Linked DNA regions of Homo sapiens. The protein of the gene in region 6 purifies or fractionates together with the protein of the main gene of each other region. This does not show direct contact. Each region holds a gene or a part of one and is shown on either strand. Other genes may lie near its edges. The genes, in order: NBEA, NDE1, ACAD11, PALS1, DIXDC1, FAM124A and LRBA.

The links.
Region 1: the proteins of FAM124A (region 6) and NBEA purify together in Homo sapiens (affinity purification with mass spectrometry; one large-scale study listed by BioGRID and IntAct). This does not show direct contact.
Region 2: the proteins of FAM124A (region 6) and NDE1 purify together in Homo sapiens (affinity purification with mass spectrometry; one large-scale study listed by BioGRID and IntAct). This does not show direct contact.
Region 3: the proteins of FAM124A (region 6) and ACAD11 purify together in Homo sapiens (affinity purification with mass spectrometry; one large-scale study listed by BioGRID and IntAct). This does not show direct contact.
Region 4: the proteins of FAM124A (region 6) and PALS1 purify together in Homo sapiens (co-immunoprecipitation; 2 studies listed by BioGRID and IntAct, with this or other methods). This does not show direct contact.
Region 5: the proteins of FAM124A (region 6) and DIXDC1 purify together in Homo sapiens (affinity purification with mass spectrometry; one large-scale study listed by BioGRID and IntAct). This does not show direct contact.
Region 7: the proteins of FAM124A (region 6) and LRBA purify together in Homo sapiens (affinity purification with mass spectrometry; one large-scale study listed by BioGRID and IntAct). This does not show direct contact.

Annotation. Positions count from the first base shown.
Region 1 is NC_000013.11:34,945,270-34,948,769, forward strand, and holds part of NBEA (neurobeachin), read left to right. Parts: intron 1-3,500. UniProt on the Homo sapiens protein: Binds to type II regulatory subunits of protein kinase A and anchors/targets them to the membrane. May anchor the kinase to cytoskeletal and/or organelle-associated proteins.
Region 2 is NC_000016.10:15,653,245-15,656,744, reverse strand, and holds part of NDE1 (nuclear distribution protein nudE homolog 1), read right to left. Parts: intron 1-3,500. UniProt on the Homo sapiens protein: Required for centrosome duplication and formation and function of the mitotic spindle. Essential for the development of the cerebral cortex.
Region 3 is NC_000003.12:132,635,810-132,639,309, forward strand, and holds part of ACAD11 (acyl-CoA dehydrogenase family member 11), read right to left. Parts: intron 1-3,500. UniProt on the Homo sapiens protein: Acyl-CoA dehydrogenase, that exhibits maximal activity towards saturated C22-CoA.
Region 4 is NC_000014.9:67,328,435-67,331,934, reverse strand, and holds part of PALS1 (protein PALS1), read right to left. Parts: intron 1-3,500. UniProt on the Homo sapiens protein: Plays a role in tight junction biogenesis and in the establishment of cell polarity in epithelial cells.
Region 5 is NC_000011.10:111,943,843-111,947,342, forward strand, and holds part of DIXDC1 (dixin), read left to right. Parts: intron 1-3,500. UniProt on the Homo sapiens protein: Positive effector of the Wnt signaling pathway; activates WNT3A signaling via DVL2. Regulates JNK activation by AXIN1 and DVL2.
Region 6 is NC_000013.11:51,228,898-51,232,397, reverse strand, and holds part of FAM124A (protein FAM124A), read right to left. Parts: intron 1,051-3,500; coding exon 1,019-1,050; intron 1-1,018.
Region 7 is NC_000004.12:151,008,785-151,012,284, forward strand, and holds part of LRBA (lipopolysaccharide-responsive and beige-like anchor protein), read right to left. Parts: intron 1-3,500. UniProt on the Homo sapiens protein: Involved in coupling signal transduction and vesicle trafficking to enable polarized secretion and/or membrane deposition of immune effector molecules. Involved in phagophore growth during mitophagy by regulating ATG9A trafficking to mitochondria.

The DNA.
Region 1 (3,500 bases), about 16 Mb from region 6:
CAAAAGGAGCTGTTTATTACTAAGTTGTTAATTATATTAATTGTGGAGTATAAATTAGTCATTTGAAGTGTAATTTTCTTGAACTGTAGATTTAGGGCTTTATTGTCCAATACACTCATGAAAATGTCATATGAAAATTTAAGTGGATTCTCAAAAATATGTGGAAGTCATGGGCATTTAAAAAACTGATTATCAAACTTAATTCTATTTATTTAGTAAGTAAACCAATAAAATTCATATAGGACACTCAGTGACTCGTTAGAGTTTGGAAACCTTTAATATTAAATCTAAAATGATTTTTTAAAATTTTCAGTTTTAGTTTAACACATTAAATAAAAATGTAAGGTGAAATAGTGAAATACCTATTACTGTGCCCTGAATGACAGAAAAGAAAGGAGAACTAATGAAACTTCAAAAAAAAGAGGAGTTTCTACCTTAAACAATACCTTTGTCTCAGTCGCCTTTGTCAGTATATTTTTCTTTCTTTTTCCTGTTTATTTTTTCTTCCTATGTAAGGATACTCATAAATACTTGGTTTTTAGGTGCTGTTTCTCACATGCCTTGGCCAAAGAATTAAAAGCTGGGCAGAGTGAAGTTTTAAGCATGCACTAAAGTGTAGGACTTCTTCAACAGAGCGGTGGCTGTAATTTTTCTGCTTTGTTTCCCAAAGGTCTAGAGACCTATTTTTACTACTAGGTGGATTGTGGGAGTTTGGTGAGGAATCACCAATGTGATATGATATAAAATTAGTCATTTTTATTAGAGATGTATGTATTTTGTATAATGATGTTATAGTTGACTTAAAACAGTGAAATATGGAATGGATAATGTTAGGAAGGTAGGTAAATTAGTTTGTGAATAAAGTTACAGTCAGAGTGCATTGTCAAGGATTTTGCATTGTAGCTCTACTAATGAAAGAAACTGATCGTTAACAAAGTTTGGCTTCTGGAGGAATTATTTAAAGTGGCAATATAAGAGAATTTAACTACAGAGAAGAGATTTTGTTGATTGTTTTCAGTTGTAAAACTGGCGTACTACCTAATCTATTACTTCTTTTGTAAACACACTTAACATATGTTTATATAAGCTTTATCCATATTTGAAGTAAAAGCTATGTAAGTATCGTGTTATTGTTGCTTATAACATGGAAGTTTCTTTTATAAACATAAATTTCTAGAAAAATATGTTTATAATAGAGGATTAATATTTACTTAGTGAAAGAATTCATAATTTTTTTGGAATGGCTTTCTTATGTGTATAGTATAATTCTATGATTATAATTATGGAATTTAATTATAGACAAATTTTTTATGAATAACTGAATTCATGAAATTTTTTCATGAAATTTTTTCATGGATTTGTAGTTTTTTTTCATGAGTTACAGTGAGTTATATCAGTGTGTCCAGTTGTAGAAAATGATATTTCCTCTGATTTTTTTTTTTTTTTACATTCTAAGTGGCATGCTGTTGGCTGAACTGGAAGCCTAATAAGATGCTTTGAAGGGATTTGTGGTTTACCAAATTTCTCTCATCTTGGCTTATGGATCATGGTATTTTTGTTAAAAGGGTAACTTTAAGGTTTTTTTTTTTTTTGTACTTGAATATGGCAGTAACTCTTCTTCCTTAGAGTTTTTTTAAATTTGCAGCTTGATAGTCATAATTTTCATTTTAAAGATATTTAGAATTTTACAAACAAGGTGTCTTCTGCATTTGAATTATATTTATTTAAAAAATATACAGTTGCATCTTAGAATCATGGAGGTCCTTAATACTAATAAAACCACATTTATATTAAAATAATTTCCTGCATTTTAATTTATGTTGATATATAAGCCTTTTCATATTAATTTGAGTTGTATTTTATTCTCATGATTGGGTATGGAAAATAAAATTCAGGATTCATATGTAAATGCTCGAGGTTTCAATATCTTAAGGAGTTTTGAGATTTTCCTTAGAAATATTAATTTAGTCACATAATGACACTAAGGCAGCAAATATTCTGTGGTCAGTCAACGATCAAGTTATATTAATTTTAAATAAATGTTTTGTGTATTGCTAGCTGCTTTTTGGTAAATACTATGCTGCTAATTAAAAATATCTCAAGGTTCTTTATTCTTTTGCTATACTTTTCCCAAACAGTGTGAAATAATTTATTGGGTCTAACAGACCCAGTGCCCGTTTTGTGTCACTGGTATAGCTGTATTATAAAATTCAGTCACCTGCATTTTTTTTTTAACTATATACTGAACATATTGTTATGCATTAGTTCCAGGTTTTCCATTTCTTGTCTTTATACAATGTCAGCATATCTCTTTGGCATCACATATCACCCTGTAGCATTGCAGTTATTTATGTGTGTTTCCCTTCCTAGGCTGTGAACTCCATGAGGGCAGGAATTGATTTTATGTATATTTATTTTTTGTATTTCTAGGCCTTGGATAAGTTAAGTGCGTTTGTAGTGTGCAGGACACTGTATTAGGCAGTAATGATTATGGTCAGTTTCTGAAGTTATGTTCAACATTACGGTCCAGACTTAGGATCCTGAAATAAACTCATATATAAAGTCAACTCATATAAACTTTATGTATTTCTTATTCCTCAAACTAGAAATATGTGTTCAATGTGTATGATATTACCTGACTGTGTAGGCATTACTGCATATGTAGATGTTATTTTGAACTGGCATCTGTTAGTAAGTTCGAATCTGGTAAAAACTTTTCAGTAAACTTTTATGTATAATCAAATATAATCACATAACAAGGTCATGTTGTTAACAAAGAAAATACGTAATGCATTGAAGAGAAATTGTAGAAAATATTGTTAGCATTTGTCATATTGCCAAGAATAGTGGACATCTCTTGTTTTTGTGTGTCTGGCGTACATGTCACCTCTTTGTAGTGGTACCTCAGTTTTCCTTTGATGACTCACTTATTCCCCATTTGTAGTTCAGCTGGTTTAGGTGGGTCTACCCCACTGCCTGCCTTGAGGGTCAGACATCTAACCTAGGTGTGGCAAGAATTGTGGTGATTGGTTCAGGGACAAACATTTAACCCAAGGGTAGCGAGCCAGAGTAGGTTCCAGGAATTGTGCTGGAAGGCTTTCTGATGGGGATGCTGAATGTGTAAATTCTTAAGAGTTGTAGGTCCCTGTCTTAGAATTTGATCAGGTGTAAAGCAAACAACCTCATGATTCTGTTGGAGAACCTAGAGTTCTTTATGTCTGTGGTGATTATCTTCTAACCATTAAATTATCTCCTTTAAAATTTACTATTGTTATTTATTTCAAATCAGTGTAAGTTGGGTTTTTTGTCACTTGTAAATAGAAGGAATCCCCAGTAACATAGACATTAGTATCTGGAAATGACACATTGTAGGAAACAGACCTTAGATTTTGAAATGGAGTGGAAGGCAGTGAGAACTTTGTGGTCCTCTAGCAGTTCCGTTTTACAGAGCAGCTGTTTAAATTGTCACCTGTGTTATCTTTGTCAATGGAACTACTGAG
Region 2 (3,500 bases), on a different chromosome or scaffold from region 6:
ACATGGTAAAACCCCATCTCTGCTAAAAATACAAAAATTAGCTGGGCATGGTGGCACATGCCTGTAATCCCATCTACTCAGGAGGCTGAAACAGAAGAAACTCTTGAACCCGGGAGGTGGAGGTTCCAGTGAGCAGAGATCCTGCCACTGCACTCCAGCCTGGGTGACAGAGCAAGACTCCATCTCAAAAAAAGAAAAGAGTAATAATAATAATAATAATAATAAAAGAAAAGAGCCTCTTAAAACACTGTTATCTTGGCCAGGAAGGTTTAAAAACTTAATCCTCAGGAAAGAAATGAATCTGAGATGCTTTAGGAGGTGCGTCTATTGTGGGGCAGGTTCTAATTACAACGGGCCAATGGGAGGGATCTGGTTTTGGATTTCAAGGACTGAGGAGAAAATAAGCAGAGAACTGGATTTGTATCACAGCCTGCAAAATCTTTCACTCCAACCAAGAGACAAAAACCACAGGAACAGCATTTCAACCAAAAACTCTTACATTTTAAAAGCAATCCTTAGGGAAGAGAGATGCTGGAAGCAAAGAAGGAAGAAGTAACAGCTGCACTTCACTTTATCATAAAACAGCAATCTTTTTTTTTCTTTTTCTTTATTATTATTATACTTTAAGTTTTAGGGTACATGTGCACAATGTGCAGGTTAGTTACATATGTATACATGTGCCATGCTGGTGTGCTGCACCCACTAACTCGTCATCTAGCATTAGGTATATCTCCCAATGCTATCCCTCCCCCCTCCCCCCACCCCACAACAGTCCCCAGAGTGTGATGTTCCCCTTCCTGTGTCCATGTGTTCTCGTTGTTCAATTCCCACCTATGAGTGAGAATATGCGGTGTTTGGTTTTTTGTTCTTGCAATAGTTTACTGAGAATGATGATTTCCAATTTCATCCATGTCCCTACAAAGGACATGAACTCATCATTTTTTATGGCTGCATAGTATTCCATGGTGTATATGTGCCACGTTTTCTTAATCCAGTCTATCATTGCTGGACATTTGGGTTGGTTCCAAGTCTTTGCTATTGTGAATAATGCCGCAATAAACATACGTGTGCATGTGTCTTTATAGAAGCATGATTTATAGTCCTTTGGGTATATACCCAGTAATGCGATGGCTGGGTCAAATGGTATTTCCAGTTCTAGATCCCTGAGGAATCACCACACTGACTTCTACAATGGTTGAACTAGTTTACAGTCCCACCAACAGTGTAAAAGTGTTCCTATTTCTCCACATCCTTAAAAGTATAAGATTTTTGCCTTTGCCATTCAAAAATGTCAGAGAGAGGCCGGGCACGATGGCTCACGCCTGTAATCCCAGCACTTTGGCAGACTGAGGTGGGCAGATTGCTTGAGCCCAGGAGTTTGAGACCAGCACAAGGTGAACCCCGTCTCTACTAAAAATACACAAATCAGCAGGGCGTCACGATGCACGCCTGTAGTCCCAGCACTTTGGGAGGCTGAGGTGGGTGGATTGCTTGAGCCCAGGGGTTCAAGACCAGCCTGGGCAACATGGTGAAACCCTGTCTCTACTAGAAACACAAAAATTAGCCAGGTGTGGTAGAGCGCACCTATAATTCCAGCTACTTGGGTGGCTGAGGCCCAAGAATTGCTTGAACCCAGAGGCAGAGGTTGCAGTGAGCAGAAATTGTACCACTGCACTCCAGCCTGGGCACAAGAGCAAGACTCTGTCTCAAAAAATAAATAAATAAACAACATGAAAACGTCAGAAAGTTCTATTGCAGTACTCTCTGTGGCAGAAAGCAGGCAACATGACTTGCAAGGGTTCTCTTATTTTATCAGCATTAAGTACTGAATTTGACCTTCTGTTTGCTGTGTGCTAGACATTTCAAAAATTGTTTGCAAACATTATCTTCTTTAAGCTGTGTGACTGTAAGAGATGGCTAAACAGGACAACCACTCTGTTTCTTGGAAGCAGAAACACCGTATGCCTTGGCCATCTCTAAATGTGCATGTGAGCAGCAGAGGCAAACTAGATCCAAGTTCAAGGGATCTTTGCATTCAAGTCCAAGGCTTCCCAGGGGTTGCAAACTGACTGACTGCAGATCAGATTCACTTGTTTCATTTGGTCCAGTTTTGTTTTTTTTTTTTTTGTTTTTTTTTTTTTTGAGTCGGAATCTCTTTCTCTGTTGCCCAGGCTGGAGTGCAGTGGTGTGATCTCAGCTCACTGCAACCTCTGCCTCGCAGCTTCAAGCGATTCTCCTACCTCAGCGTCCCTAGTACCTCGGATTACAGGTGCATGCCACCACGACTGGCTAATTTTTTGTATTTTTAGGAGAGACGGGGTTTCGCCACGTTGGCCAGGCTGGTCTCGATCTCCTGACCTCAGGTGATCTGCCCACCTAGGCCTCCCAAAGTGCTGGGATTACAGGTGTGAGCCATTGCACCCGGCCCTCACATAGTGTTTTAAAAGGCACTGTAATAGGCAAGTGTTAATGCCTGGTCTCAGTATATACAACTTTGCACCTGCTATCTTAAAAATGCACCCCACATGCATTTATTTCATCTGTGTGCCACTAACCTGCGTTCTTAATACGCCACCACACCATCATGCCCCAGCAGCTCTGTAGACAAATCTGATGGGATCATGCAAGGAACAATGACAAACTAGGACCCAGTGGTACAAAAAGTATCTATTTTGCACAACAGAGATCTATGCCTCCTTCAAAAATTTGTTTCCGGCCGGGTGTGGTGGCTCATGCCTGTAATCCCAGCACTTTGGGAGGGTGAGGCAGGCAGATCACCTGAGGTCAGCAGATAAGAGACCAGCCTGGGCAACATGGTGAAACCCCATCTCTACCAAAAACACAAAAAAATTAGCCAGGTGTGGTGATGCACACCTGTGGTCCCAGCTACTCAGGAGGCTGAGGTGGGAGGATCACTTGAGCATGGGAGGCGGTGGTTGCAGTGAGCCGAGATCGCCCCACAGCACTCCAGCCTGTGTGACAGAGCGAGAACCCGTCTCAAAAAAAAAAAATTGTTTCCACATGCTTTTTTTTTTTTTGCATGTTTTACATGATTAAAGCTAACAAAAAAGTCTGAAAATACACTCGAGACACACACCTCTGATTTTAAAACTCTGGAAAAAAGCAAAGCAATCTCTTTCAGCTTTCCTCTGAGAGAAGAAACCCAGCACTGCTAGTCAGGAGCAATAAACATACAGAAACCATCGATAATTACTCAACACCCTTCTCCATCCCCACTCCATATCCTTCCCAATCAAAACAAACAGAAGAGCAGGAGGGAAGAGAAAGAAGCTGCCAAATGTCCACACATGCTCCGACAGCCAGGACGCAGGCTTTGCATTTTGCAGGAGTGACATCACTGGGGCAACATCAGTCAAGAGTCAGCAAGCCTGGCTTCTGTCTTTGTGCTTTCCAAGTTTACAATGATCAACCTACAAAAATACTTAGGCAGGCAAGGACCCATGTTCAAAGATGCACACCATCATTCACGAATGTGGAAA
Region 3 (3,500 bases), on a different chromosome or scaffold from region 6:
CTTTCTCTATGACTTTATAAGAGCTTTTATTGTGGTTATATTATACTATAAATTTATAATATTATAAGTATTATAAATTACTATACTAGCTAGATTTGTGAAACTACTGAAGAGGATGGATGCATTTTTCTCTTACATCATTCTATTTGTTATCTATGCTTTTAACATCCAAAGTAAAGATGAGGCACTTACTTATGCTATAAATGATTACTTTTCTTTTTTAATACAATTGGGAAACTTCTCTGGAGTTACTTTTCAGAATATCTGAACCATTTTTGGGGTAAAAACACAAAGCTATAAAACAACAGCCAGTGAGAAAAGCTGATGGCTCATCAAATTGCATAAATTAGTGCAAATTAATTAGCAATAGCTAATTAGAGTCCTGTTGATGCCTGTTTGTGTTGAGAGTTATTAAAAGCTCAACATAACTTTTAGTGGTTGATCTGGACATTTACTAGTTCGTCTTACTGCTGCTAGGGAACTTATTAGTAAAATTATTTTTGATAGTTTTTCTGAAACCTCAGCTCAACAGAAAGCTTTTAGTTTTTTAAATTATCTTCTTTATAAAGAGATTCATTTTATGTATACTTTTTACACCATTGAATTTTATTAATATGTATGTGTATTGGCATTCGAAACAAACAAAAAATACATACAATCCAACAGAACAAACAGTAGATGAAGAAGGCAGGGAAGAAAATAATAGAATTTGTAATGAAAAGATGAAGCTAGGAGTAAGGTTATTACACATAATTGAATGTGATAGGACATGCATAGTTGTTAGTGTGGGTAGTAAAATTTGCTTTGAATTTTATAGCGGGTAAAATAAAGTGTGAAGCATGGTCAGTCACAATCTTTATAGTGTATGCAGGTCAAAAACAAACCAGCTGCTCAAGAGGGACAAATTTTCTTGGCAATGAGGCTAAAGAAAAATATCACCCATCAATCTGCATACAGGTGATATTGTGTAGCGGACGAAAATGTCTTCAACAATATAAAGAGAACTTTGAGGGGCATGGTGTAATTCCTAGAAAGCAGGCTATGCTGGAAAATGACTGAAAGGACAAAGATGAGTTAGGTAGAAGACAAGACCACATGCTGAGAGTGGGAACCGAGATGGGACAAGAAATGTGAGAGTTTGAGAAGAAGGGAAAAGATTTAGAAAAGCCATTTTTTAAATGTCACAGGTTTTACTAAGAGATGAAGTTACAGCCTAGATAAAATCATGTGGCATAAAAATGTCCCAGATCCAATTAACCTTACTTCACGACTTTATTCTGCAGCAAAAATATGAGGATTCAAGTTTAGGGCTAGAAACTGGTTAAAGTCAAGGGGTGATGGACATCCCCTGTAGGGTTATTAGAAAAAATAAAAAGTAAAATAATAATAATAATGATGATATAAAGTCAGGGTGGGAAGATTCTAGAATAATAAGTAACCTAAGGTCAGGACACTTTATAATTCTTACATTACTTGCATACATCTATAGTCAAAAAATTATTAATGAAATTGATACTAAAGGTAGTTTTTGAGATGACTGATTATGACCATGTGGCTTATGTAGGATAAGAAGTCAAGTGAAGTCATGAAGGGCTTATGGATTCTAAATTAACAGCAATCAAATTTGCAGTGTCTCAGGGAAGATGCAGAGAAATAAAAGAACAGAAGGTAAAGAGGGTGAGGTCAAAAATAAGGGGTTTCAATTTCTAGATCACTGAAGTTGACAAGTTCCAATGGATGTTTCTAATTAAATATATTTTTCAAGTTGAAATGACAATATGCAGATTTTACATTAAACTCCAAGATCTTAAACATTTCTCTACTGGTAAAATTTATATTTGGAAAATCAACATTTTCCAGGAAAACTGGATTTCTTTTCAACATTGCAGTGAGCCTATTGTGCTACTGAAATACTTGCCCAAACATGCTTTAAATACTTTGTAAATAAGTAACAGAAAATAATTTCGTTTTGCCATATCCTGTAGTTTCCTTTACTGGCTTACTCCACACATTCCTGGAAGGTTTGTCATTTAAAATTGTTTATTCTTCTTTCTTAATTGTTGTGTTTTCTGATGACAAAAATTAAACATGCTGTTGTTTTAAAAATAAAAACCAAAAAACATCAAACCCTAAACATTACAGAAATGTACAATTATGTCTCCTATAATTCTATCCCCTACAACCACTGTTTAGGTTTTCGTACATATTATGAAGCATTTACTTATACCCTAATATTTTTCTGAAGAAGCTTGACAAGTAGTCTAAGAAAAGTCAGAGAGAAAAATGAAGGGGAAAAAATGGAAAAATGAGGGTACCTGAAATAAACTGAGCATCATTGATGTGCCAGGTACCAGCTAGTTGCTCCACATTGACTGTTTCATTTTAGCTGCCCAGCAACTCAGAATTTTTTTTTTCAATTTTAAAAGGTACACAATGTCAATTTCCTGGCTTTGATAATGTACCATAGTTGTATAATATCCATTTTGCAGAATTTGGATGATGGATACACAGGACTTCTCTGTACTATAACACTGTTACAACTTTTTTGGGGACTCTAATTATTTCAAAACAAAAAGTTAAAATAAAAATAGAGGCACAGAGAGAGATTGAATAACATGCTTTAAGTTCACACTGCTAGGGAATGAAAGTTAAGCATAAATTTATGAGATGGAAATAGTTGCTAGTGAATAATTAACTAAAATTAATCCCTTCAACATAGATTCATCAGAATCATATAAGCACCTGCAATATAAAGATGAATAAGATACAGTCATTGTTTTAAAGGAACTCCAAGTCTAGTGGGTTCTAATTTGTTATCTACTATAGAGACTCAATATTATGTAGACTCGACTAAAATATTAATTAAATGACACAGATCAAATACAGGCCAGATCCTGCTATGTTTTCAGGCATATGCTTTTATAATTATCTAGATTATAAATTAGCATATTTAATTTTTCTAATCTCAGGGTAGATAATTAACAAGGTTAGAATTCAGAATTCATCAGTGCCACTAGCTCTTCCTGCCCTAAAACATCTTAGCATTCTAAGAAACTAATGAACCCAGAAAATCCTCCTCTCAGAAGCAGGATTCATTCCTACTATACTGTAATCCTAGGCCTCATTGTAGGTGCTCAGTGGAGGATTACAGCTTTCATTTGTTTATACTCTTTATAAAGAATACAGTATGCACATTTACATTGAGCAAGGTTATATTAATCTCATGTAATTCTTTTGAAGCCTCAAGAAGCTTTTGGAATTCTCTATTCTCAGAGTTTATAATAAACAAATAATAAATTCTTCATGAGATAGGGCTAAAAACCCCAAAGAAGTATAAATGAACCAGAAAAAACAGCAAGAACATGGATAAGCTAAATATTGTAACTAGTAGATGAAAACTTATTTGAAGAAAACAGCATCATGCATGTAAAATTCCCAAATCCTTTTAAGCAGTAAACCAGATACCACTTGGGATTAGAACCAGTCTCAAAGGTAGGCAG
Region 4 (3,500 bases), on a different chromosome or scaffold from region 6:
ATTCTGGAATGTTGTACATCTGAATATGGCACACAGAATCCTTTGTTCCCAGCAGGGAATCTACTTCACCACTGTAACTGAACACACTGACATTTTTGCTAAAACTTATGTCTACCGTAAGCTCAAGATTATTGGAAGAACATTCTAGGACTCCACAGAGAACTGAAACTTTGTGGTATTGGAGTTGAAATGAAAATGATAAAGCCCGAATCCACCTAGTTTTTATCAAATTTAAGGCATTGTTATTCCATTTTGTGCCAAAATGGCTTATATCACTTATTTAGTACTTCATGTCTGAAGTTCTCTTTCAAATTACAATCCACGACTAAGATGAAACAAAATGTTTTAGCTCAAAATTTTTAGCTGAACTAGGCAAAACTGACAATAAGTTCATACTGCTAGATAGCCACTCTCAAGCCTTCATACTAGCAGAACAGATTCAGAGATTCAGAATGCAACTAGATAACCGGTTGGTTACATTTTGTAACGCCATCATTTTCTTAGCACAATTTTATAGAGTTAAAATTGAAAATCTGTTTTACTTCAGCACTTCTATCATTGAGTAATAAAGCACTATTAGAAATACCAATACCAGCGCAGGGGCTCCCCCGCCTGTAATCTCAGCACTTTGGGAGGCCAAGGTAGGTGGATCACATGGGGCCGGGAGCTTGAGACCAGCCTGGCCAACAGGGCAAAACCCCGTCTCTATTAAAAATACAAAAAATAGCCAGGCGTGATGGTGCACATCTGTAATCCCAGCTACTTGGGAGGCTGAGGCATGAGAATCACTTAAACCCAGGAAGCAGAGGTTGCAGTGAACCAAGATTGTGCCACTGCACTCCAGCCTGGGCGACAGAGTGAGACTCTGTCTCAAAAAAAAGAAAGAAATATCACAGGAGAAAAAAACTTAAGTAGAATAAATACAATCAGATACACCATCCTCTACACCAAAAACTGTGGAATACACATCCTAACAGGTGTGCACAGAACATTCACCAAGAAAGAACAGATGTTGGGCCATAAAATAAGGCTCAACAAATTTGAAAAGACTGACATCTTTCAGGGTCTGACCACCTGGAATTATAAATCAGTTAAAATCTTTTTCACATCTCCAAATAGGTGGAAACTATATAACATACTTCTAAATAACTCATGTGTTAAAGAGAAAAACAAGGAAGCGGGGTGCCGGGGGCTCAGGCCCATAATCCCAGCACTTTGGAAGGCTGAGGCAGGTGGATCACCTGAGGTCGGGAGTTTGGGACCAGCCTGACCAACATGGAGAAACCCCATCTCTACTAAAAATACAAAATTAGCTGGGCGTGGTGGTGCATGCCTATAATCCCAGCTACTCGGGAGGCTGAGGCAAGAGAATTGCTTGAACCCGGGAGGCAGAGGTTGCAGTGAGCAGAGATAGTGCCACTGCACTCCAGCCTGGGCAACAAGAGCGAAACCCCATCTCAAAAAAAAAAAAAAAAAAAATGAAGGGAAATTAGAAAATACTTCTAACAAAATGGTAACAAAAATACAATGCCAAAACTTACGGGATGCAACTAAAGAACTGTTTCGAGGGAAATTTATAATTTCAAATGCCTACATTTGAAAAGAAGAGTTTAAAAATTAAGCATTCATCTTGAGAAACTAAAGCAAGTGCAAATTATAGTCAAAGAAAGCATAAAAAGAAATGAATTAAATAGAAAAGAGACAATAAAGACAAATGCCCTCCAACTTATTTCTTTTGCTAAAGTGTCTGATTATTCCTTTTGATAATAATAATAATAATTATTATTATTATTATTTATTTCCTGGTTCCAGATTGTGTCTTTATTCCTCTTTCTGACAGACAGCAGAGCATTTGTCTGGCATATATTCTCTCTTACCACAATATAGATGATTTTCTGTGACTTTAACAATACATACAAGAAAAAAATCACATCTTTATGCCAATACCATTCTTTCACAATACTAGAAGAACAGATTCAGAGTACAATTACATAACTGGTTGGTTACATTTTGCATCCAGTGAGTAACACCATCATCTTCTTAGTTTCTATATCTATTTATTTATTTATTTATTTATTTATTTATTTATTTATTTATTTTTGAGACCAAGTCTTGCTGTGTTGCCCAGGCTGGAGTGCAGTAGCACGAACTCGGCCTCTTCAGTAGCCAGTACCACAGGCGTGCACCACCATGCCTGGCTAATGTTTTTTGTATTTTTAGTAGAGACAGGATTTCACTATGTTGCCCAGGCTGGTCTCGAACTCCTGGCCTCAAGTGATGCGTCCGCCGTATCTCAAAATAATAAGAGCTATTTATGACAAACCCACAGCCAATATCATACTGAATGGACAAAAACTGGAAGCATTCCCTTTGAAAACTGGCGCAAGACAGGGATGCCCTCTCTCACCACTCCTATTCAACACAGTGTTGGAAGTTCTGGCCAGGGCAATCAGGCAGGAGAAAGAAATAAAGGGTATTCAATTAGGAAAAGAGGAAGTCGAATTATCCCTGTTTGCAGATGACATGATTGTACATGTAGAAAACTCCATCGTCTCAGCCCAAAATCTCCTTAAGCTGATAAGCAACTTCAGCAAAGTCTCAGGATACAAAATCAATGTGCAGAAATCACAAGCATTCCTATACATCAATAACAGACAAAGAGAGAGCCAAATCATGAGTGAACTCCCATTCACAATTGCTACAAAGAGAATAAAATACCTAGGAATCCAACTTACAAGGGATGTGAAGGACCTCTTCAAGGAGAACTACAAACCACTGCTCAACCAAGTAAAAGAGGACCAAACAAATGGAAGAACATTCCATGCTCATGGATGGGAAGAATCAATATTGTGAAAATGGCCATACTGCCCAAGGTAATTTATAGATTCAATGCCATCCCCATCAAGCTACCAATGACTTTCTTCACAGAATTGGAAAAAACTACTTTAAAGTTCATATGGAACCAAAAAAGAGCCTGCATTGCCAAGACAACCCTAAGCCAAAAGAATAAAGCTGAAGGCATCACCCTATCCAACTTCAAACTATACTACAAGGCTACAGTAACCAAAACAGCATGCTACTGGTACCAAAACAGAGATACAGACCAATGGAACAGAACAGAGCCCTCAGAAATAATACCACACATCTACAACCATCTGATCTTTGACAAACCTGACAAAAAGAAGAAATGGGGAAAGGATGCCCTATTTAATAAATGGTGCTGGGAAAACTGGCTAGCCATATGTAGAAAGCTGAAACTGGATCCCTTCCTTACACCTTATACAAAAGTTAATTCAAGATGGATTAAAGACTTAAATGTTAGACCTAAAACCAGAAAAACCCTAGAAGAAAACCTAGGCAATACCATTCAGGACATAGGCATGGGCAAGGACTTCATGACTAAAACACCAAAAGCAATGGCAACAAAACTCAAAATTGACAAATGGGATCTAATTAAAGAGCTTCTGCACAGCAAAAGAAACTACCATCAGAGTGAATAG
Region 5 (3,500 bases), on a different chromosome or scaffold from region 6:
CCATGGGTGGTTGAAACTGTGGAAAGAAAAACTATGGGTAAGGGAGACTTCTGTACAAAGAACCTGTCCATGAAAGGAAGAAGAAATTCAAGGATATTTTTACTTGTGAACTTTATTTGTACCCAATTAGCCATCAAATTCAATGAACAAATAGCTTTTGCAGGTTCAGTAAAGGGCTGAAAGAGTTAATAGAAAAGAAATACAATAGGGTGTTTACTGGCAGAATTTAGGCCAATAATAACATAAGGTTTTTAAATCTCTAGCCTTGCTCTTAGTTTCTCAGCAACTTCCCCACCCTCATCTCCTCATCTTCTGCTGCTGGAGGGTCTCAGAGTTCTAAACAGGTATCTGGTTTCACTGTAAAACTAATTTCCTTCCTGAGCCATTCATGTCTCCTCCTGAACTGTCTCTCTAGCATACCACAAAAGCTCTCTGCTTTTCTTGTTTGCTTTTCTTGTTGCCAGCAGGAAAACATAGAGTCGCCTCCTTGGCTGTTTCTGCTCTAAGAACAGTAGATACCACATACTTCCCTGGTGAAGCCCCATTGGTGCTTTCGCAACTCTAGCAAATAAGTCCCCTGCAGGAATTCTGTGAGCTTGAGTCTTGGAGGAGATAGAGAACTGAGGCTCGGCTTACAAACCTGTTTGGAAGGAAGGGCAGGTCCCAAAGAAAAACAGGAAGAAGGTTACATTTGGTGGCAAGAAAGCTTTCAAGGTCAAGATTTCCTGCACAAATGAAGATTTTGGATGGAATTGTGTATACTAGAAGACTTTTACCTAAAATCATAGGGTTATTTGGAGTGTCTTGGAGGAAGCTGATGGAGATTATGGGATTGCTAAAGCCTCCTTCCACCGGCCACCTCGTGGTACTATCACTGCTCTCACAACTTTAGAGGGGTCCAGTCTCATCAAGCCAAAATCCTTCTCAGACAGTTTTAACTCTTGTTATGTCTACTGACTGACTTCTTCTGAGGCCTGACTCAGAGGGTGGTTACCATGAAAACCTTCAGTTGTTCTAGACATTTATTACACTGGCATCCTTTTAGCTTCCTTAGAACAAATTAGTCATGAAACTCCAGACTGAGATTAGTTCAACACTGTTACACACGTAGTATGTACCAACTGTCTTGGTCTTTTTTAAAAAATTAGTTCGGTTACAAGTGCCAAAAACCCAACTTGAACTAGCAGGGATAGGAAGTGGACGTTATTGACTCATGGAATCCAAGGAAAGGCAGAAAAACTAAACCATGGAAAGGGCAGGGATGCAGCAGAAACAATGAAATCAAGAACTCTGACACTGGCAGGATCTCTTCCTCTGTTCTCTGCCTCTTGTCTGCTTCTTTCTATGCTGGCTTTATTCCCATTTACTAGAGCTGGTTTTTCCTTCTCAGGTGGGCAGCATGGCCTATGGCAACGTCTAAGTTTTATATCTTACAACTTTGAGAGAGATGAGGGAGGAGGAGGAAGACTGATTCTATTCCTAAATGCCAGTTCAGAAAGTTCCAGGGATTGGCTGGCTTTCACCAATCAACTTTGGCAGACCAATCAAGTGTGACCAGTGGAGGGGGTGATACAATACCAACCTGGTCATAGGACCCACCACTGTGTGCACAGAGGAGGGTTCTTAAAGAAGAGGGAATCATTGTGGGCTGGGCAGCTACCCCAGGAGCTGTTAGCTACACTATCACTGTAAGCCTAGCTGGAATCTGATCATTCCTACTTTGCCTCTCTTGACCAAGATCCAGGGTCATAATCAAAATATAATTCTTTTTTTTTTTAATTGTTATGCGAAAGAGCTTCATTTATTTGTTTAGTTTTCTGACTTTGTGCTGGTGTGTTCAATACTTTTTCTTTTCCTGAATAAGGAAGGCACGCTTGGTTCTGTCACAGACACATTTAGTACACATAGAACAACCACAGGCCTTGCTGACATGGATTTTTTTTTGAGACAGAGTCTTGCTCTGTTGCCCAGGCTGGAGTGCAGTGGCACGATCTCAGCTCCCTGCAACCTCTGCATCCTGGGGTCAAAGGATTCTTGTGCCTCAGCCTCCCAAGTAGCTGGAATTACAGGCATACACCACCAGCCCGGTTAATTTTTTTTTTTTTTTTTTTTGAGATGGAGTCTCGTTCTGTCGCTCAGGCTGAAGTGCAGTGGCACGATCTTGGGTCACTGCAAACTCCGCCTCCTGGGTTCAAGTGATTCTCCTGCCTTAGCCTCCCAAGTAGCTGGGATTATAGGCGCCTGCCACCACGCCCGGCTAATTTTTGTATTTTTTTTTTTTTTTGAGATGGAGTCTTGCTCTTTCGCCTAGGCCGGACTGCAGTGGTGCGATCTCGGCTCACTGCAAGCTCCGCCTCCTGGGTTCCCGCCATTCTCCTGCCTCAGCCTCCCTAGTAGCTGGGACCACAGGCGCCTACCACTGTGCCCGGCTAATTTTTTGTATTTTTAGTAGAGACGGGGTTTCACCGTGTTAGCCAGGATGGTCTCGATCTCCTGACCTCATGATCCGCCCGCCTTGGCCTCCCAAAGTGCTGGGATTACAGGCTAATTTTTGTATTTTTATTAGAAATGGGGCTTTGCCATGTTGGCCAGGCTGGTCTCGAACTCCTGACCTCAAGCTATCTGCCCACCTTGGCCTCCCAAAGTGCTGGGATTACAGGTGTGAGCCACTGCACCTGGTCAGTTTTTTTGTATTTTTAGTAGAGACGGAGTTTTGCCATGCTGGCCAAGCTAGTCTGTAATTGCTGGCCTCAAGTGATCTGCCTACCTCAGCCTCCCAAAGTGCTAGAATTACAGGCATGAGCCACTGCACCCAGCCAACATGTTTTTTTTCCTTTGTTTATTTTGGAGAACCTCTTAAGAACTTTAGGTGTCACAGCAGGAACTCATTGAAGTCGGCCTGGGCACACGCCACATGCAGATTTTGGTGTTTTCCCAACCTTCTTGGTATGAAGGTAAACAGTTCTGTGAACAGGGATTTGGGACAGCCTAATTTTGTTAGAGGCTGTATTGCAGAAAAGCCTACAATGGTATGCCAAATGCTGGACCATTCTGAGTGCCTATGGACACTGTCCCCAGAATAAGCAAGATCTATTTCTCAATATTCCAGATATTTCCATTTTGCTGAGCCTGTTGTATCTTTTTGTCACTGAATAATAGACTTGTAAAATGATAGTGTTAGAAGGAAACAAAATGCAGTTTTTTTTTTCTTTTGGTGTTTATATTTGTTTTGGTTCTTGTTTTCAGCTGCTGTGTGAAGCCCTTAAATTACTTTAGATGGCTGGAGAGTAGGGGTGGGGGCTTGAGGGTGGAGAAACACAGGAAGAGTGAGCTGGGTTTTGGACTCCTGACCCTGGCCTAATCAGAGAAGCACTGCTTTTCCCTATTTTACATATCTGCTTCTTACACAAGTTATAATTTTAAAAAATAATGAGGCCAAAAAAAATGAAGAAATGAAACTACTAGTCCACCTTTCAGAGAGTAACAGCCTCCTGTAAAAG
Region 6 (3,500 bases):
GCTAGTGAGATAGGGCAAAACAATTTAATATTTACTGATTTAAACAATCAGGGCCTTTATATTAAGACAATTACTTTTGTTAATTTAAAATAAGTATTCAATCAATCTGAATGGCTTTGGTCATTTATGTAGTAATCTTAATCACTCTCAATTCTTTCTAGTTATGAGGCATAATTTCTCATGAGTAAATTTACCTGTACTTTAATATTAAATATAAGCACCTTTTTAATAACCAGAGTGTCTTTGTAAACATATTCCTGATCATTTTCTGCTGCATATAATAACCACTTATAAGCCAGGAATTACAAATACAGGATGATGGATTGATAAAAATGTCTGTATTCTTTTAGCCACATTTAAGTGGAAAAGTAATAGCTAAATTCCCTAATTACAACCTACATCGGTTATACATACTGATATATATGTATATCAATGTGCATACGTATTGGTACATATGTATTGGCATGTATAACCAATGTAGGTTATAATTAGGGAATTTAGCTATCACTTTTCCACTTTAGCTATAACTGTTCCAACTGTTAACACACTTCGCAGGATTTTGCCAGAGATAGATGTTCCCTCCATTGGAGAGGGAAGGATATTTGCCTGCAGATGCAGACATGCAAGGGAAGAGATTTTGCAAGAGATGAGCTGGAGCAACTGCAGGGATCCAGGAATTGTGCTCTGAGCTTTCTGTTTGCCTGAGGGTAGCAGGTATCTGATAGATGTTTGTTCAATGAAAGCGCTACCTCAGATTCTTCAGAGATGATGCTCCTAGAAGCATCCACAAGCAGCTGATAAAGCCTGGGTTACATCCTTCAGGCTGAATTTCTGTATGATCAGATTCTCCAGGAAAAGCCTCCACTTCCAGAGTTACAGCATCCTGTACCACATTCTTTGGCAAAGATGCTTTGGTGATTCTTACCTACTATAAAACCATGTACACACATGGCCTCTAGGGTACTGACCTCTCCGGGGACCGTTAGACAATGCTGAAGGATGTTTAAAAGATACTTACTGCTCGTGGAGGACAGGTGGCTGTAGTCGGACCTGAAACACAAGACCTCAGCGTTAGTAGAATTCTTTATCCAAATGATTTATTCAAGCCAGAATTTTAAACAGTCAGTGGTAAGTAGCATTTAGCTGGTAAAGAAATGTCACCAATTAAAAACTGCAGTGCTAAGGCTCATTTTATGCAAAATAAAGTTATGTCTGAATTTGAAAGAAAACTTTAAAGGAACTTTAGAATTCTGGGGGCTCTCATGTGAGTTCTGCAAATTCCTCTGATGAGGTTTGGAAGAAGCCATCTAAAGGTTTAGCAAAAATATTGAATGGTTATTTCTCTGGGGAGAAGCCCCAAAGTTTTCAACAGATTCACCACTCACAGATTCACTCCAAAGGTTACTGCAAATGAGCACCCTTCAAATATTCGCACAACACCATGGGGAAATGTTCTTTGCTAACATAAGCAGAGGATCCCAGCGCGAGGAGAGAGGGAACCTCAGCTGCGAAGGTTTCCACATTCAAGGTGGGGCTGACCACCAGGAAACAAAGGCACAATGATATTTCCACTGATTTCAGTTCCATCTGAGAAGAAAGCCTGCTGGATATTAGAGTAACAGGATGTGAGCTGTGATCGGGAAAGGGAAAAGGCAGGCTAAGGCTGGGGTGAAATCGCCCTTTCAGTTTCTATGCTGAGAAATCAGCTGCTGGCATTCAGCCTCCGTAAGAGTGGGGCTCTGGCCAAGGATCTGCTTAATCTCTAGTAAGTTTCTGCCCTACTTCTGTAGCTGTTAAGACTTTCCTCTCTGGCAACAAATTTGATATGGAAGCTACTTATTTTCTTCCCCTAGTGTCCCAAAGTCATTCTCAGTAGGAAATTAATCACTTTAGCACGTAGGGATTTATTCTGCCATGGAAGTTAGGGGACGAAGTTATGCAAATAAACTGCTTAATTATGTTTAATTTTATAGATATACATTCCTTTTATCTCCTTAGTCTCCTGCTGCCTTTCCTGAATCATCCAATTTTCACTCCATTGAACTTCTTGCCACATTTAAAAAAGTACATGCAAAACTTTTTAAAAAAATCATAAGCAGCATGCCTCTTACTGATTAAAATAACCTACATCACTCAAAATGCTGCATTGATTTATTGGTCGAGGAACAAAATGGAAGAAAACAACATGTGGTTTTCACTTTCACAAATGAAATACTTTAGTAGTCATGGAATCAATGAATTTTAAAACTGGAAAGAATAACAACTACCAACATTTGCATATCCCTTTATATATTACAAACTGCATTCATATATATATATATAATTCAATATTTTATTGACTAGGAAATTAAAGTGATACTATCTGTACAGAGGCCAGGAGGTGAGCAATGATTAGTGACTGAAGTTGAGTGTGCACGGTGGGTGGAGAGGAAGGACTCCGAAGGCAGAAGGGATTGACTGGCTAGCACATGGTGACATACTAGCTAAGGGAGACAACAGAGAGGGGAGGGTCAAGGATTAGCAACATTCTGAAGCCCAGGATTTGTAACCCAGTACTGGTGCATTAAATTCTTTCTGGAACCATTCAGGACATAAACTTTAGAACAATACTTGGAAATGTAATTATATATAAACTTAGTGACTGCTCAGCAAATATCCACTGTGGTAGATGCAACAGGAAAACAACTTGATTACAATAAAATCATCTTAAGATGGACAGACTTTAAAGAAATGTCATGACTATTCAAATACAACACACAATAAGAATGGCGATATTTCTATTTCTTTTATTCTTTAAAATGTGTATTTTCAGCTAGGATTTTCCAAATTCTCTTGAAGCAGATGGGATTCACATATGCATACATTTTAAAGATCTGCATACAGATGGATATGTATGTAGAATGAAATTTACACTTGAAACATAGTTCAAGAATCTTAAAGTGCAACAGTATTTTAGTGTCTTGGGACAGGTGCTGGCATAACTGATGCCCCTCTATGAGTCCCTCCACGTTTCTAGAGACTAAGGGCACCACCGGGTTGGGCCCGCCGAATGGTCAGCCTTCTGACAATCACGCTGATCCTGCTGCAGTTCCCTCCACATACAGCAGCCAATCTTTGCAAAGGATAAATCTGATCATGTCTCTCTCTGGATGAAATTCAAGCTCGCTAGTGTAAAACACAAACCCCTCTCTCCGTGACGGATGGCCCAGCTCTGCTGTCCAACTTTCACCCGGGTCCACCGTCACAACGGAAACACACAGAAAGTCACCTACAGCCTCCCACTGCTCTCCAGCCTCTGATCCTCAGTATATGCAATTTGTACACAGTTGCCATAATGATGGAGACACAATTTTGAATTGCTCTTTTCACTTGATACCATCATAACATGCTGCTACACATTTCCTGTAATTATCATTTTAAATTAATACACTATAATTTATTCAACCCTTTTGTTGGCTAAATGATCGCTCCTGGTTGTTCACCTTTACAAAACACACGGC
Region 7 (3,500 bases), on a different chromosome or scaffold from region 6:
CAACGTGGTGAAACGCCATCTCTACCAAAAATACAAAAATTAGCCGGGCTTGCTGGTGCATCCCTGTAATACCAGTTACTCAGGAGGCTGAGATAGAATTGCTTGAACCCGGGAGGCGGAGGTTGCAGTGAGCCAAGATCACGCCACTGCACTCCAGCCTGGGTGGCAGAGTGAGACTCCATCTCAAAAAAAAAAAAAAAAAAAATATATATATATATATATATATATATATATATATATATAAAATGGTATTTTTTTTTCTTATACAGACAAGGTCTTACTATGTTGCACAGGCTGGTGTTGAACTTCTGACCTCAAACTTCTGACCTCCCACCTCAGCCTCCCAAACTGCTGGGATTATAGGCATGAGCCACTGTGCCCAGCTCAAATTTTCAAATATAGAGTACAACTGTTTATATAGAATTTACATTCTATTAGGTATTCTAAGTAATCTAGAGATGATTTAAAGTATATGGGAGAAAGCCGGGCATGGTGGCTCAAACTTGTAATCCCAGCATTTTCAGGAAGCCAAGGCAGGCAGATCACTTGAGGCCAGGAGTTTGAGACCAGCCTGGCCAACATGGTGAAACCCCGTCTCTACTAAAAATACAATAATTAGCTGGGTGTGGTGGCACACGCCTGTAATCCCAGCTACTCAGGAGGCTGAGGCAGGAGAATTGCTTGAACCCAGGAAGTGGAGGTTACACTGAGCCAAGATCGCGCCACTGCACTCCAGCCTGGTGAGGGAGCAAGACTCTGTCTCAAAAAAAAAAAAAAAAACTAGCGGGTTTTGGTGGCATACGCCTCTAAGTCCTAGCTACTCAGGAGACTGAGGCAGGAGAGCAGCTTAAGCCCAGGAATTTGAGGCTACAGTGAGCTATGATCAAGCCACTGTACTCAAGCCTGGGCAACAGAGCAAGGCGCGGTGGCTCACGCCTGTAATCCCAGCACTTTGAGAGGCCAGGGCGGGTGGATCACGAGGTCAGGAGATCCAGGCCATCCTGGCTAACACGGTTAAACCCTGTCTCTACTAAAAATACAAAAAATTAGCTGGGCGTGGTGGCACGTGCCTGTAGTCCCAGCTACTTGGGAGGCTGAGGCAGGAGAATGGCGTGAACCTGGGAGGCGGACCTTGCAGTGAGCCGAGATCGCGCCACTGCACTCCAGCATGGGGGACAGAGTGAGGCTCCATCTCAAAAAAATAAATAAATAAATAAATAAATAAATAAAAATTTTAAAGAGATGATTTAAAGTATACGGAAGATACATGTAAGTTATATGCAAATACTATACCATTTTATATAAGAGACTGGAGCTTCTGAAAATTGTGGTATCCACTAGGGGTTCTGGAACCAATCCCCCACATATCAAGGGGTGACTGTAATTACTTAACAAAAATTTTTTAAAAAATCATGAAAGTATGTATTTGTCACCAGCTCATGGGAATCACTATTCTTGAATTAGGTAGCACTAAATACCTTTAAATACCTGATGGAAGCCTTAAACTCAGCAGCAAGTTCCTGAAAACATGCCAACATATATTAATTATTCTGGGTCTAAAAGTTTGACAAATTACTTTAAAATACAGATGAAAACAAAATAAAATGTTTTAAACTGCAACAAGAAAAATGTACAAGTTGACCAGAAGTTTGAAACACTTGACTACATTGGTGCACTGTTAATCAAAATTTATCTGCAAAACAGATTTGCAAAAGAAATTATAAACAGGGTAGTAAATTTCAAAGTAATTTATAACAGACTAAGGTCAAGCTACATTAGCAAAGTTGGAAGGTAGCACTTAAGAAAAAACTCTGGGCCAGGCACGGTGGCTCACACCTGTAATCCCAGCACTTTGGGAAGGCCAAGGCAGGCAGATCACCTGAGGTCGGGAGTTCAAGACCAGCCTGGCCAACATGGTGAAACCTAATTTCTACTAAAAATACAAAAAAATTAGCCGGGCATGGTGGTGCGTGCCTGTAGATCCAGCTACTGGGGAGGCTGAGGCACAAGAATTGCTTGAATCCGAGCAGCAGAGGTTGCAGTGAGCTGAGATCGCACCACTGCACTCCAACCTGGGTGACAGAGTGAGACTCCCTCTCAATTAAAAAAAAAAAAAAAAAAGGCCGGGCACAGTGGTTCACGCCTGTAATCCCAGCACTTTGGGAGGCTGAGGCAGGCGGATCACGAGGTCAGGAGATCGAGACCATCCTGGCTGACACGGTGAAACCCCGTCTCTACTAAAAATACAAAAAATTAGCTGGGCGTGGTGGCGGGCACCTGTAGTCCCAGCTACTTGGGAGGCTGACGCCGGAGAATGGCATGAACCCAGGAGGCGGAGCTTGCAGTGAGCTGAGATCGCACCATTGCACTCCAGCCTAGGCAACAGAGCAAGACTCTGTCTCAAAAAAAAAAAAGAGAAAAAACTCTGGAAAGTTATATGGCTCTACCATGTACTATTTGGACACCTCTGGAGGAGAGGAACTTGTTCAATTTTAACAGTATAAACTTTATTGTTTAAGTAGCTAATATTTAGGCCAGGCGTGGTGGCTTAAGCCTGTAATTCCAGCACTTCAGGAGGCTGAACGGGTGGATCACCTGAGGTCAAGATTTTGAGACCAGCCTGGCCAACATGGTGAAACCCCGCCTCTACCAAAAATACAAAAATTAGTCGGGCCTCATGGCGCACGCCTGTGGTCCCAGCTACTTGGGAGTCTGAGGCAGGAGAATCACTTGAACTCAGGAGGCAGAGGTTGCAGGGAGGCAAGGTTGCACCACTGCACTCCAGCCTGGGCAACAGACTGAGACTCTATCTCAAAAAAAAAAAAAAAAAAAAAGACTAACTATCAATTAGGAAATATTTACGTGTAGCAGTACTAACAACATTGAGATGGACTAATTTACAGAATCCCAATACTTTCGTTCTAATTTTTTTTTTCAGGGTGTTGCTCTGCATGATTGTAGCTCACTGTAGCCTCGAACTCCTGGGCTCAAGGGATCCTCCCACCTCATCCTCCCAAGTAGCTGGGACCACAGGTATATGCCACCATGCCCAGCTAATTTTTTATTTAATTTTTTTTTTTGTAGAGACAGGGTCTCACTATAGTGCCCAGGCTGGTCTCAAACTCTTGGCCTCAAGTGAACCTCCCAAAGCTCTGGGATTACAAGCATGAGCCACTGTGCGCAGCTGCTTCCAAAGATTTTCTAGAGTGGCCAAAACCCCAGATAATCCATGAAAGAGCATGAAAAGTATTTTAAGGGACAATGGAAGGGGAGAAACTGCTACCTAATATTCTCAGCAACTTTTCCTGCCCTACCTGACAAGCGAATGATATTGAAGAGGAGGGTAACTAACTGAACAGACTCTTCTCTCTCCTTCTATCCAGGCACCTACTATCCTGCAAATACGCAGCTTTGAAGGACTTAACCAATGACCTTAAAATCTATACCAGGTCTACAGTTCTAGGAAGCGTATAAGCAAATGCTGCTATAGAATTTGGATT